2 linked regions of the Homo sapiens genome follow. The protein of the gene in region 1 interacts with the protein of each later gene in a pairwise test. Each region holds a gene or a part of one and is shown in the gene's direction. Other genes may lie near its edges.

Region 1 (3,653 bases):
CAGTCTCAGGGATGGGATCCAGGAAGCCCTCCCGAACAATGCACTAAGAGCCTAACACCTGAGCTCTCAGCATGGCCCTGGCACCTGACACATGTTACTGAATTTCACCCAGATCCACTCCCTTTCCAGATGAGGAAACTGAGGCATAGAGCATTGTGTGCCTTGCCCAGGTCATATAGATAGCACATGGCAGAGCTTGAATTTGAACCCAGGGCTGCCTGGCTCCTAACTACCACATCATACTTCCTACAGAAATTACAGGGGACATCAGGGCCACTGCTCCTGACAGAGGAGGAGAAGCGGACCCTGATTGCTGAGGGCTACCCCATCCCCACAAAACTCCCCCTCACCAAAGCCGAGGAGAAGGCCTTGAAGAGAGTCCGGAGGAAAATCAAGAACAAGGTAAAGCCTGCCACCCTGGGGCTTCAGAGGGCTTCCTTGGTGGGTGGGCTCCCCTGGCATACCAGCTCTGAAATTGGGGGGCCCAGGAAGTGAATATGTGGCAGTGCTAACCCTTGTTTTCGGGCCTCCCCCTCTAGATCTCAGCCCAGGAGAGCCGTCGTAAGAAGAAGGAGTATGTGGAGTGTCTAGAAAAGAAGTAAGGGGCTTGGGAGGGGTGGGCAATCCACTCCCTTGCCTGACCTGCCCTCCCCTAGGCCCTCCCTCAGGGGGCAGCAGAGGCAGGGGGCACAGGGAGTGTGATGGTGGTGGGCTGGGCCGAGGAGCTGTTGTGAGTCTGGGGGCTGCCCCTGAGCCTGTGCCTGCTTGGCCCCTACAGGGTGGAGACATTTACATCTGAGAACAATGAACTGTGGAAGAAGGTGGAGACCCTGGAGAATGCCAACAGGTGGGTAGTGCCTCCTGCATCCAACCTGGCCCCCTGCCCCTCTGCAACCCGTGCCTGGCTCTGCATAGCTCTGGGAGACAGGGGAGAGGAGAGAGAACTAAGTTTAGGATGACAGGGACCCCAGAAACACACCCTGCAGCCTTGGGCCACTTACATCCTGCCCCTCTCTGTGTTCCCATTTTTCCTCACCTACACCTGGCAGGGCTGGGGAGTTGCTTAAGTGAGCAGATGTTTTCAAAGTGTGGTCCTCAGACCAGCAACAATCCCTGGGAATTATTAGAAATGCTTATTCTCGGGCCCCATGCCAGGTCTACTGAATCAGAAGCTCCAGGGGTAGGGCCCAGCGCCCTGTGTTTTAATAAGCCCTCCACGTAATTAGGTTGCACCCTCAAGTTTGAGAACCACTGGTGTAAATCCTTGTTACTCAAAGCCAGCTGACCCAGACAGGCAACATCAGCATCACCTAGGAGCTTGTTAGAAATGCAGGCTGGGCACGGTGGCTCACGCTTGTAATCTCAGCACTTTGGGAGGATGAGGGGGGTGGATCATTTGAGGTTAGGAGTTCGAGACCAGACTGACCAACATGGTGAAACCCCATCTCTACTAAAAATAGAAAATTAGCTGGGCGTGGTGGTGGGCGCCTGTAATCCCAGCTACTCGGGAGGCTGAGGGAGAAGAATCACTTGAATCCGAGAGGCGGCAGTTGCAGTGAGCTGACACTGTGCCACTGCACTCCAGCCTGGGCCAGACTCTGTCTCAAAAAAAAAAATGCAGAATTTCAGAACTCTCTCCAGACTTACTGAGCTAAAAACTGCACATTCACAAGGTCCTTGGGTGATTCACATGTACTATGAAGTTTGAGAAACAGGAGTATAGAGACAGCAGGACAGTGCCTGGCAGGTAGCAGCCACGTCAAGTCACAGCTCTGGGTTCTTACGCTGCTCTGCCATTTTTGTGACTCTGGAGAAATCGTTAAATATCTCTGGGCCCCTGTTTCTTCGTCTAAATGGGGATGATAGAAACATTATCTCATAGGGCCAGGCACAGTGGCTTACGCCTGTAATCCCAGCATTTTGGGAGGCGGAGGCGGGCAAATCACTTGAGGCCAAGAGTTCGAGACCAGCCTGGCCAACATGGTGAAACCCCCATCTCTACTAAAAATACAAAAATTAGCCGGATGTGGTGGTGCATGCCTGTAATCCCAGCTACTCAGGAGGTTGAGGGAAAAGAATCACTGGAACCCGGGAGGCAGAGGTTACAGTGAGCTGAGATGGTGCCACCGTACTCCAGCCTGGGTGGCAGAGTGAGACTCTGTCTCAAAAAAAAAAAAAAAGAAAGAAAAGAAACATTATCTCATAGGATGGATGTGAGGGTATTAATAAGATCCTGCGAATAAAGGATCCAGCCTGATGCTTGGCATTTAGAAATGTGCAATTCATGTTAGCTTTTATTCTTCTTTCATTATTTTTATTTATTTATTTTCTTGAGATAGGGTCTCACTCTGTTGCCCATGCTGGAGCGTAGTGGGGTGATCATAGCTCACTGCAGCCTCAAACTCCTGATTCTCCCCCCTCAACCTCCTAAGTAGCTAGGACCACAGGCGCACACCACCACCCCTGGCTAATTTTAAGTATTTTGTAGAGACGTGGTCTTGCTGTGTTGCCCAGGCTGGTCTCCAGCTCCTGGACTCAAGCATACCTCCTGCTTTGGCTCCCAAAGTGCTGGGATTATAGGTGTGATCCACTGCACCTGGCCTTCTTTCATTATTTTTACTTTTTTATTTTTATTTACTTTTTTTTTTTTTTTGAGACACAGTCTTGCTCTGTCGCCCAGGCTGGAGTGCAGTGGCACAATCTCGGCTCACTGCAACCTCCGCCTCTTGGGTTCAAGCAATTCTCATGCCTCAGCCTCCCAAATAGCTGGGATTACAGACGTGTACCACCACACCCGGCTAATTTTTGTATTTTTAGTAGAGACAGGGTTTCACTATGTTGGCCAGGCTGGTCTTGAACTCTTGACTTCATGTAATCCTCCTGCCTCAGCCTCCCACAAGTGCTGAAATTACAGGCGTGAGCCACCACACCCCACCATTATTTTCATTCCAAATTCCTGATAGTGCCCAGCCATGAGCCTGTGGTAGGTCTTTAATAATTATTTGCTGGGATTAATTACAATAACCTAGACAACAGCCTTGGTATGCAGCAGGTGCTCAACACAAGACTTTTTCCTTCTTTCCTTCCTTCTCCCCCAGCTTCTCCAGCGGGATCCAGCCACTCCTCTGTTCCCTGATTGGCCTGGAGAATCCCACCTGACCCCCCACCCCACCCCTCTGTCTCTGGCTGGGGTTCCTTTCTGGCCCAAAGTAGGTCCAAGCCCTTGTAGTTATTTCGCCACCTGCTGTACATTGTGGGAACTGCAACCCCTACGTGCCCGTTTGGGTGGAGAGAGATTAAACATTTGCCCACCAAGCCTGTGCTGAACGCATTCTGTATGCACCCAGAAGATTCCACGCTGAGTGGGACCCGGTCCTCACCCTCAGGGAGGCCACAGTTAATAAAGGAGACTGATGTGGAGATATATAAATAAACGAAGTGCCGTGATAAAAGCAAACACAGCAATAAAGCAAAAATGGCTGGGCACGGTGGCCCATGCCTGTAATCCCAACACTTTGGGAGGCCGAAGCGGGTGGATCACCTGAGGTCAGGAGTTCCAGACAAGCCTGGCAAAACCCCGTCTCTACTAAAAATACAAAAATTAGCCGGCATGGTGGCGCACGCCTGTAGTCTCAGCTAGTCAGGAGGCTAAG
Region 2 (3,653 bases), on another chromosome or scaffold:
ACACATGCCCCAAAGAGACAAAAGAGCACAAACAAGGTTACAGAGAAAGGAGCCCAGATAAATAGCAGGCTTTGTCAGAGGGTAGCATTGTGGTGTAACAGAAACAAGTGTGACCTGTAAGTCAGAAAAGCTAATTTCTAGCTGCAGCTCTACCATTCAACAGCCTTGTGACCTTGAGCAAGTTACTTGGCCTCCCTGATACCCACGCAGCTCCCTCATTTGTAGAATGAAGGGTCACAGGAGATGGCTACACTCCCTTCTGGAACATTCAGTGGGACTGTGCTGTCCGTGGAGTGCTCAGAGCTACATGCAGTTAATCACAGAAGGCTTACAGAGGAGATGGGCCAGGCCAGAGTTATTCTGATTTTTTAGACACTGTGATATGAAGAAGTAGCTGTGAATTCCTGGGCCAGGTGTTTTCAGGTACCTAGTTCTTGTCTAGGACAAGTATGTCTTGGAAAGTGGCCACCATTTATACATTTATACGGTTTCACCTCAGCTGCCGCCAGGACCTGAAGCAGCACACAGGTTCTTTTGTCTTAAAGGGCCAGCTAGCCTAAGCAGGACACCTGTTTGCTGGCCAATCTTCAAATCTGGTCTTTTGGACCCTGGAATTTCCTGCAGCCACTTCTCCCCTCTTCCCCAGACTATTCCCAGCTAATGAGTCCTTCTGCAGCTCATAAAACTTGAGCTCCTCAGCAGGTTAAATGACTCCCAGTCTGAAAGAAGGAATCTAAAGCCCCAACCCCTTTCTAAAAAGTAGCAATTTACACAGACACTGTCAATTAGCTTCTTGCCTTGTTTGGGTTGCCTTGAGTCACTTCCCATCATAAACTCAGATGGCTTTAGCGAAGTCATTTTCTTGTTTTGCCAGCATGATTATGTGATTCTTCACTCTCCTTCCAGAAATAGCAGTCTGGGTTGCAGTGACTGGGCCTCGGAGCTGCTTTGCCGCCTCGGCACCCCAGTCCTTAGCAGGGTGCCCAGACTTGTAGCTGCTACTCCTCCCGCCTGGTCCTGAAGTCTCTTTTCTGACTCTCTAGTTTCAGTGCTGTGGAAAAGAAAGCTCCGAACAGGTCCAACCTACATGCCCAAAGGAGCTTCTAGGACACAAGGTAAGCTTCTACCAAGGTTCTTACTCTACCTGTAGTATCATGCTGCTAGCTTAGGAAGCCATTGAAGGTAGAATCTCGGATGGGATCTGCATTTTACTGAATTTGCTCTAGTGGCAGCATAGAGGATTGATGGAAAATGAATAGCGTTGAGCTGAGAGACCCATTGGGAAGGCTGCTGTCCTTGTTGTTAGCAAGAGATGTTAAAGAGGGCCCTTTAGAAAGTGACAACTACAGGAGTGGTGACCAGAGAAGAGAGGAGAATCCATTACTGGGTTTTTGGCTTCACCACCTACATAGATGATGGTGTCATTTATGGAGCTGAGGGAGAGAGGAAAAGGAGCCAATTGTGGAGAAAAGAAAATGAGCTTTGTGTTTAACATGGTGATTTTGAGGAGCCAGTGGCACTTCCAAATGGAAATATCCAGTAGGCAGTTGGAAAATCTGGTTTGTGGCTCAGGAGAGAGGTCTGAGTGTCAGCACTTGATGGGAAACTTAAAGCTATAAATACGGATTTGATCCATTAGACTTGGAAGAAAAGAAGGATGAGGATAGATCCTTGGGGGACAATTTAAGGGTGGGCAAAAGAAGAGATGCCAAAGAAGGAAACTGGGAGGGGCGGCCAGACACAAGTGAGGAGACAGCACGGGAAGGGGAGGGAATGGTCACCAGGCCCAGGTGCTGCTGTTGAGGGCAATTCAGTATTGATCAGCTGCCTACCTTATGTTCGGCACTGTGGATGCAAAGGAGAAGGAGAAAAAGTTCCTACTCACAAGGAGCTTGCATTGCAGTCTGATAGGAGGGATGAACATGAAGTCCATACGGTCCAGTGATTAGGAATGCATGGAATGTGCAACGTGCTCGGAAAGCACAGAGGGAAACGCACTTAGGAGAGGCGAGAGGCTGGGGGATGGGGAAGGCTGACAGAGGTAATGATGTCTCAGCTAAATCTTCAAGAATGGAAAGTAATTATGCAAGCATTGGGCAGAAAGCGGGAGGGGGAGGCCTGCGTGCCGAGAGACCAGCGTAAGCAACAACACAGAGGCAGAAATGACATGGTTTGTGTGGGGAACTGAAAGCCTAAGAAGGTCTACTAATAACTGCTGAAAAGCTGGCAGGATTTAGCATGCAAGGAACCAACTGGTGACGTGCTGTGAGGGATGGATTGAGGACAGAGCCCAGGTTTCAGAGAGCGAGATGTGAGGAGAGAGAGCATCCTTTCAAGAAGTTTCGATTTGAGCCAAGGACACAGAAAGAAAGTTTACAAAAGTCAAAGTCCAAATTACCATTAAACATATAGAAAATATAGAAAATTAAAAGTAATATTTAAAATCAATAGCAAATTAAAATGAAGAGATGCTGTTGTTTAATCTATGAAATTGACCAAGTGTTTTTCCTTTCCCTTAACAATAATACACAGTTTTGGTAAACGTGATGTCGTGAGCATTTTCAGAGAAATTAGTAAATAGTTTTAAAGGTCAGTATGACTATGTAAGACTAGAGGATTAAGTATGTTTATGCCCTTCTATCCAGAAATTCCACTTCTCGGAGTTTATTCTAAGGAAAAGGAATCAGAAATGCAGACAGACGTTTTTGTGCAAATCATGCTCATTACATGTTATTCATAAGAACAAAACACTGGACAGACCCTTAATATGTGGCAATAGGGGATTGTTTGGATAAATTGTAGTATATTCATATGATGAAATGTTTTACCACCATTAAGAATCATGATTTCACCTGTAATCCTAGCACTTAGGGAGGCAGAGGCAGGCAGATTGCCTGAGCTCAGGAGTTTAAGACCACCCTGGGCAACATGGTGAAATCCCGTCTACTAAAAATACAAAAATTAGCCAGGCGTGGTGGCATGTGCCTGTGATCCCAGCTACTCAGAAAGCTGAGGCAGGAGAATCACTTGAACCTGGGAGGCAGAGGTTGCAGTGAGCCGAGATCGCGCCACTGCACTACAGCCTGGGTGAGAGAGCGAGACTCTGTCTCCAAAAAAAAAAATAATCATCATAATCATGATTTCAAAGAAATTTTTAGTGAAACAAGGCATTTTTAAAGTTGTAATATTAAGTTTAAAAAGCTCACTGTTGAATATAAAGAATGACCTAAGGGTGTAGGTGTGTTTGTGTGTGTAAGTATCACCAACAAATTTATTACCTTTTATGGTGAGAATACAGACATTTCTTTTTAAAAAAAAAAAAATCTCTTTTCCAGATTTCTACAAGAAGCATGTATTCCTTTTGTGACTAAAGCCAATATACCTTTTGTACATTTGTTTTTTACAAAAAGAAGCTGGCAATGAAGGGAAGGAGGGCCTAATGGCAGAACTAGAGGAGGACAGTCTCGAGTGTTGTTTTGTTTGTTTTGATTGAAGAACTGAGCATGGTGATAGGATAAGTAGAAATGTCAATGGATAAGGAGAGGCTGAATGTATAGGAAGGAAAAAAAGTAACTGGCAGTGCAGGCTTCCTGAGGAGCTGAAAGACCCAAAGCAGGATATGAAGTTAACTGTCTTTTATTATTATTTATTTA

What was found. Proteins that work in one complex are often made in the same cells at the same time.
Region 2: the proteins of CREB3L1 (region 1) and TSPAN2 interact in binary tests that used the Homo sapiens proteins (3 or more experiments, as listed by UniProt).

The regions. Positions count from the first base shown.
Region 1 is NC_000011.10:46,312,073-46,315,725, forward strand, and holds part of CREB3L1 (cyclic AMP-responsive element-binding protein 3-like protein 1), read left to right. Parts: intron 1-252; coding exon 253-402; intron 403-539; coding exon 540-598; intron 599-778; coding exon 779-847; intron 848-3,098; exon of another isoform or gene 3,099-3,653.
Region 2 is NC_000001.11:115,054,999-115,058,651, reverse strand, and holds part of TSPAN2 (tetraspanin-2), read left to right. Parts: intron 1-1,043; coding exon 1,044-1,115; intron 1,116-3,653. UniProt on the Homo sapiens protein: May play a role in signalling in oligodendrocytes in the early stages of their terminal differentiation into myelin-forming glia and may also function in stabilizing the mature sheath.